Homo sapiens: one gene and its partner. The protein of the gene in region 2 purifies or fractionates together with the protein of the main gene of each other region. This does not show direct contact. Each region holds a gene or a part of one and is shown on either strand. Other genes may lie near its edges.

Region 1 (3,656 bases), on a different chromosome or scaffold from region 2:
GAGAAGCAAACGAAGTATCCTCAAAAGCTCCTAAACAGAAGACAATTTATCATTAGCAAATTTATCTTTTTTTTTAAAAAAGTATTGCTACAGTTGCCTAAATCTATTTTGCTTAGAAAAGCTTCCCGCAGTAAGAAAAGGCTAAACCTTAATTATTCATATGTGATAATATCAAGAAAAAGACCCTATATCTTTCAAGTTTCTCCACTGTTAACGGCTGTGTGAGTTATAGTCCAGAGACCATACTATAACAAAACAAGGGGTAGAGAGGAGGTATAACCAAGGAATTTATATAAAATAAAAATACCAAAACAAGGAAAATAATGAGAGTCCAGAGATAAATGAAATGTTTAAGAAATCTGATATAAAAGTGAAAACATTGAGCATTAATAAAAACTGAGTGTGAAGTCAATAATAAAAAAAAAACCTGTTAATCTCACTCCAACAAGACACAGAAGAGTCAGATACAGCCACAGAATGTTAGGCTGAGCCTACGTATCAAGTAATACAGTGGTGGTTCAGCAGAAGGCATCAAAATCACCTGGGGGTTCCCCATACTCCACATGCCCAGGGTGTAAACCAATCACTCTTGACCTTGGCATTGCTGACATCTGGGCTGAATAATTCTTTGCTGTGAAACACTATCCTGTGCCTTATAAGATATTATGCAGTGTTTCTGACCTCTACTCACCAGATCCCAGCAGACTGCTCCTAGCTCTGAGAACCAAAAATGTCTCCTAGGCTTAGGATGACCAATCTTCTCAGTAGGCTAGGGACAGAGGAGATTCTTGGGATTCAGAACTTTCAGTGCTAAAACTGTTAAAGTTCTGGGCAAACCAGGAAGAGTTACTCTTCTTACTCGGGGGGCGAATTTCCCTGCTCGAGAGCTACTACCAAAACGTTTGCAATTTGGATTAAGCAGGTCTAGGGTTGGGCCTCAACATTTTAACAAACCAACCAACCCAAACCAAATAAACAACTCAAGTAACTCCTAGACATATCTGGTTAGGAGCAGTGAATTCTAGCCTAAACTCAACTTTATAAAGGAACAAAGGCCAAAGGAGGTTAACCTCGTACAGGGCCAATCATTTTCCTATTACAACATAGAATGAGACTCAGAAAAGGACAAACCAAGGAATCCTAGAAGCTGCTAGTGTGCATATAAAATATTTGGTGTCAGGAATGAACAAAAGGAAAAAAACAGGGAACAAAAAGAACTAAAACACCACAAAATAGAAGATAAAGAGAAAAAGCAGCAGAAAGATATAAAAAAAGTTTCTTGTTGATAGTTACTTTTTTCAGGTAAACTGAAAGTCACAACTGAACCTTCAAACCTATAATCCTCTAAGAGAGGCACATTTTAAAGAAGTTACCTCTAGAAAACTTCCTGGACGTTACCTGTCAGTCCCAGGGGCAGACTGGGCACCTCACTCTCATCTTCATCATTATCTGGCTTCTCCACATTATTTTCTGTTTCTTTAGTAGTCTCGGCACTTTCTTCTTCAGATTTCCCTTTGTTTTCAGTTTTTGCTTTTTTCGTATCTTTGGTTTTAAAAGACAAAATCCGAAAAAATTTTTCCTTAAAATAGAATTCCAAATGAGATCAACAAACAGAAGATCTCTGATATAAAGACGTATATTTTCAAAAGCTAAGTATATGCTGTATTAATTTGTTAAGAATTCTGTTTGGTGAAAAATGAGTGGTTGTATTTAAAAACCCAGGGTACAGACAGACTTGGTGACAAAACCTTTTAGGCTTTTGTTCAACTAAACAGTATAAACATACCAATTATAAGTTTCACATACTCCACTGAGGGGAAAGGAAGCATACCTGATTAACATAATCCTTAAAAACTCATTATAAGTAGTCATTTTTCTTCCCACGCCAATCACTATCAAAGGCTCTTCATGTTACTAGAGATAGACTGTAAAGGAAGGGCAACAACCCACTTGCCTGGCTGACATACACTGGACTGTGCCTTGGCTATCAGGGATGAGGGTGGGAGGAAAGGCAGGGCTTCTTCCCACCCTCATTTCTACATTCACAACTTTCATGTGGCCCCAACTACCTTTTCAGTCCTACCTCTCACTTCTCTTTTCAATGTTCGACTCTGGGTCAAATGGATTAACCACATGCTGTGTTTATATAAAACTATATGGCAATTAGTGATGTTTGAAAAGAACTTAGACCACAACCCAGGACTCTCTGTAGCTCAGTACTGGTCTCCTCCCTGTACCTGACGGCCACCCTTCCAGGAAAGAGTCAACTTTGTAGGACCTACATGTTCAAAAGCCACAGATATCTTCAGCTGGTCTCCATGGCTTATTTTGTTTTCCCTGGAATAGTTCCTAAAATGTACCCATAAGGTGGTTGGGTGTGGTGGCTTCTGCCTGTAATCCCAGCACTTTGGGAAGCCGAGGTGGGAGGATCACTTGAGCCCAGGAGTTCAAGACCAGCTTGGACAACACAGTGAGACCCCATCTCATAATAAAACAAACAAACAAACAAACAAACAAAAAACCCATAAGGTTAAAACGCCCAGCATTGTGATTCAATGCTTGGGAGCAGAAATAATACCACTTCCTGGGGCATACTCAAAACAAGAATTGTGAAGGCAATAATTTTAGAACAGGATTACAATGACTTCTGTGTGTAGGCATCATGAAGACAGTAATGCATGTTTGGAAAAGTTCAAAGTCCCTTTCTAAATAAAACCCTTATTTCAGGTAAAATACATGAATAGGATGTTCCAACTCAGGGGCTGGCAAACTTTCCGCAAAGGGCCAGATAGTAAATAGTTTAGGCTTTGCAGGTCATATGATCTCTGTTGCCATAAACACAACCAAATAGGCATTGCTATGACCCAGTAAAACTTTATTTACAAAAACAGGTAGAAGGAGGGATAGTTTGCTGACCCCTATCTTATCCTACCTTGATATCTCTGCTTATACAAATCTCAATTATAATGTCCATTCTTTCATCCGAGCTTACTGAAATTCCATCATCTTCAAAAAACATTCCTTCCTTTTCCTCCTGCCATTCTTAGCACTTGGAAATTAATGTTCCATTTATTCAGAAGTTTCCTACTTTATATACTTTGTAACTAATATTCCTTTCAAAGGGAGGAATTTATGGAAGGAAAATGGGAAGAATCAAGCAGGAAAAAAGGTAACTTAAAAAGAAGAGAAAATTTCTAGAATTCTAAGGAGAGTCTTTTCTGAGAGAGGTTTTCTTCAAGGTTAGTGAAATTAAAAATATATTCCTCAATATTTTGAGAAAAGTTGAAATGGACTCCCCGCTTCTGCCAATAAAATGTTTCCATTAGCTACCAGGCTAATCTCTAACATACTGGTGAGTACAGGGAATTCTCATGTCATGTGCACACAATAGTAATAGAAAGAGGAACAATAACCGTCTGTGAAAAACTAAATGGCTGAAGTTCAAAGATAATAAATACCTACCAGGCTCAGCATCATTCACCATTTTTCTCTTTTTCTTCTTTTTCTTTTTTGATTCTGAATTGGAAGACTGCATTGCTGCTTCTCCATTGGTTAATACAGTGGATTTCTGGGGAGACTTTGTAACTTTTATATTTCCCACTGCTTCTTGAGACATGCCTCCATTTTGAGTTTCTGATAAGCCCACATTCATGGGC
Region 2 (3,656 bases):
AGGAATCTGTAAGAAAAAGCAAGCTTCTGGTAACTCTCTAATTACTTTTTCTACTTTCTGCATTTACTGAGTCTCTTCCAATATTTGTACCCCCTCCTGAAACCAAGTCCTTGAGCTCAAACATTCCAGCTTTTTGCTCATTACTCATCATCCTAGAACTGGATTTGTAAGAATCATCTCTTTAAGAGTGTGTATATAGGCCATGCGCAATGGCTCATGCCTGTAATCCCAGCACTTTGGGAGGCCGAGGTGGGCAGATCACGAGGTCAGGAGACCAAGACCATCCTGGCTAACATAGTGAAACCCCGTCTCTACTAAAAATACAAAAAATTTAGCCAGGCGTGATGGCACACGCCTGTAGTCCCAGCTACTTGGGAAGCTGAGGCAGGAGAATCGCCTGAACCCAGGAGGCGAAGGTTGCAGTGAGCCGAGATCGCGCCACTGCGCTCCAACCTGGGCGACAGAGACTCCGTCTCAAAAAAAAAAAAAAGACTGTGTACAGAAAGTAACGCAGGTTAATGAGTTGTTCTAGGAAACAAATATAATGGGTAATGAAGTATTGATCAGATAAATTGCTTGAATCAATAGCAGAGGATAGATGCTTTTTTGCGGGGTGGAATGTCTCATGCTAACTGGTTATGAATTTGGACAGGAACATATCAGGAAAAGCACTCTGTACTCTATTTTTTTTTTTTGTTATTTATATATAAATGACAAATTTAGATTACCTGATTTTCCAAGTATCATCCAAATTCGTATTTCCCAATTGTTCCATTTCTTTATGATGAATTAGTTTCATTTGGTCAGAACATTGTCCTACCTACTTTCTGCATTTGTTTTCCAGCCATGAGTAGTCAATTTATTTCTTATTCTGACTGTCACAACCAGAACTCAAGCCTCAGAGGACAATACTTCATTCAAAATAAAAATAATGTGATTTTTATGACAGTAGAGATAATAATCAAAGGGATAAACTTAGTATCATGTGTGTATGGATGTAGACCTCACAATGTCCTTGATCACTTAGCATAGATAATAACAACTGATAAAGTCTTAAGGTTTCTCAGTGAACATTATTGTAAAGACTACAGTTTAATGCTCTGGGAAGGAGAACATGGGAAAGAAATATTAACAGGTCCCCTAATCCCAGTCTTATCTTCAGAGAAGTCTTTATCCACCTGTCATTAGTCTTCAGAGTCCTGGATTCTAATATCCAGTTTATAGGCAAAGCTTCATCTCACACATCAAGACTTTTAATTTCAGGTGTTGGTGGAAAAATGAAACGAAACAATTTTGAGGACTTACCTTATGTAGCATAAATACCCCATATACAATATTTCCTGAAGCTTGTTTGTGAAGAATATCAATCTTCAGAGTTTCCTTTGCTCTGTTGATGATTTTATTTGGAACCTCAAACGTTTGGTTAGGACCAGCTTCAGATACAGTAGATTCTTCATTGACCTCTAGGAGACTATCATATTCCAAATAATCTGATATGATGATGATTTTCTTTCCATTGAATTTCTCCTTCAAGCTGGTGTTTAAAACCTTCACATGGAAGAACTGTGTCTGTGTAGCCACTGTAGCATGAAACATTATTTTTTTCTCCATTTCTGGGGTCTCATATTCAAATGGCTTTGTTGTACTCAGTACCTTCACTATCACTGGGCGTTTTTGGAGAACATTTCTTCTGGGAGTTACCTGACATTTGGCCACTGTTTTCGGGTTCTGTGTATGATAGCACAGGAGAACAAAGAAAAATGTCTAATTGAGAAATACAGAACTGCTATTCAGTGACCTCAGTATAACACAGGGCCCCAAAACTTGCACAGATGTTTAGAGCTGGAGTCAGGATAGAGAGGGATTGCGAGCCAGGGCAGAAGATATCTTAAACTGGTACAATAGCAAGATGAAGTAACAGAGGAGACCATATAGTGAAAAGATGACCTTTCTGTAAACAGAATCAACCTTAAGAAATAAAGCATAAGAGCAACATAAGACCAGTGGATACTGAAAGCCAGTGTCATGAAGTAACTTAATAAATTTTAGGGCCAGGCGCGGTGGCTCACACCTGTAATCTCAGCACTTTGAAACGCCGAGGCGGGTGGATCACCTGAGATCAGGAGTTTGAGACCAGCCTGGCCAACATGGTGAAACCCTGGCACTACTAAAAGTACAAAAATCAGCTGAGTGTAGTGGCAGGCGCTTGTAATCCCAGCTACCTGGGAGGCTGAGGCAGGAGAATCACTTGAACCCGGGAGGTGGAGGCTGCAGTGAGCCGAGATTATGCCACGGCACTTCAGCCTGGGTGACAGAGCGAGACTCTGTCTCAACAACAACAACAACAACAATAAATAAATAAATAAATTTTAGAATGAAATAATTTCTTATACTATTTCTCTTACCAGCTTAAAGTGCCAGAGCCTAAAAATAGACAAAGTTAAATGACATTTAAAATGATCAATAAATACTAAAAAAAAATAAAAATAAAAAAAAAATGAAAAATGGTGCCCACCACAAACTATAGACACAAAGAGTGTTCAGTTATCACCAGTGTAGACAGGGCAATTTAAAGAGCACATTTCATAGTGTTCCTACCCAAGATTCAGTTTGCTTACAGCAGGTGAGAACACAAGTAGGATAAACCCCTCAGAATGCCATCATCTCAGTAGGTTCAGGCTGCAGAAACTCTACAGAGTGTCATTCCCACCACCATAGCCTTTCTCAGTGTCAGGGCTCTAGCAGGTAGCATGCTAACAGAAACCTGGGGCTCAGAAAGGGTTTTCTTTAACATCTTTACTCTTTAACATCCCAGTCTCCTTAAACTGCGATAGAACAGTTTTAATGCAGGGGAGGTTGTTTAATCTACAAGAAAAAGAGCTGAGGGTATGGATAACCTCATTCACAAACTAGCAGGTGCTGGAGAGGTCTGACATGGAATACTATAGTGAACCAAGGGAAGAGGTATGAAGGACATGGGAGCAGTAGACAGTGAGCCCACAGCTGACAGTTCTGTACTGCATAGCTCTCTCTCCCTTCCCCAAACAACACAGAACAGAAAACTTCCTGCAGTCAGAGATAATGTCAAGTTCATCAAGTATCCCTGTGAAAGCAAAAGATCAAAATGTAGTGGTTTCTCAATATGTACATTGGATTAACTAGCAAATTATCGATGCAATTTTTAAGTAACCGGTGAAATCAGTCCTTTACTTTGGGTTGAAAAAAACAAAGCAAAATGGGACCAGGAAGAGTGTACCTCAGTTGAAGAACTGTTGGGTGGAGCTGACAATGAGGTCTTGGGAGATGGGGAACGGCCCATGGCTGTGGACATGCCGGCTCCTGCAGGAGAGGGAGGCTGAGTCTGTTCCTCGGACACCTTACTCCCTTTGGGTCCAGCCTTTTCTTTGGTTGATTTTTTTCTTTTCTGAAAGTGGTTTGATTTTCCTGTTATTCGTTTTCAGTGCCAAATGAAGTAGAGCACATTTTCATTATTGGATAGTAGTTTTATTATTCCTAAGAAGATGTTTCTTGGAAACTTGAGAGGTTGCTGCCCATCTCTCGCCAGTTTAAGAGATGGGCATAGATGGTTTCATTAAACGAAGAAAGAGGAGAATGTTATACACATTATTTCTCTAATTATTTCTGTTATGGGATGT

Evidence for each region. Proteins that work in one complex are often made in the same cells at the same time.
Region 1: the proteins of IFI16 (region 2) and DDX18 purify together in Homo sapiens (affinity purification with mass spectrometry; 3 studies listed by BioGRID and IntAct, with this or other methods). This does not show direct contact.

The regions. Positions count from the first base shown.
Region 1 is NC_000002.12:117,817,535-117,821,190, reverse strand, and holds part of DDX18 (ATP-dependent RNA helicase DDX18), read right to left. Parts: coding exon 3,463-3,656; intron 1,543-3,462; coding exon 1,399-1,542; intron 31-1,398; coding exon 1-30. UniProt on the Homo sapiens protein: ATP-dependent RNA helicase that plays a role in the regulation of R-loop homeostasis in both endogenous R-loop-prone regions and at sites of DNA damage.
Region 2 is NC_000001.11:159,016,301-159,019,956, reverse strand, and holds part of IFI16 (gamma-interferon-inducible protein 16), read right to left. Parts: intron 3,425-3,656; coding exon 3,257-3,424; intron 1,729-3,256; coding exon 1,306-1,728; intron 1-1,305.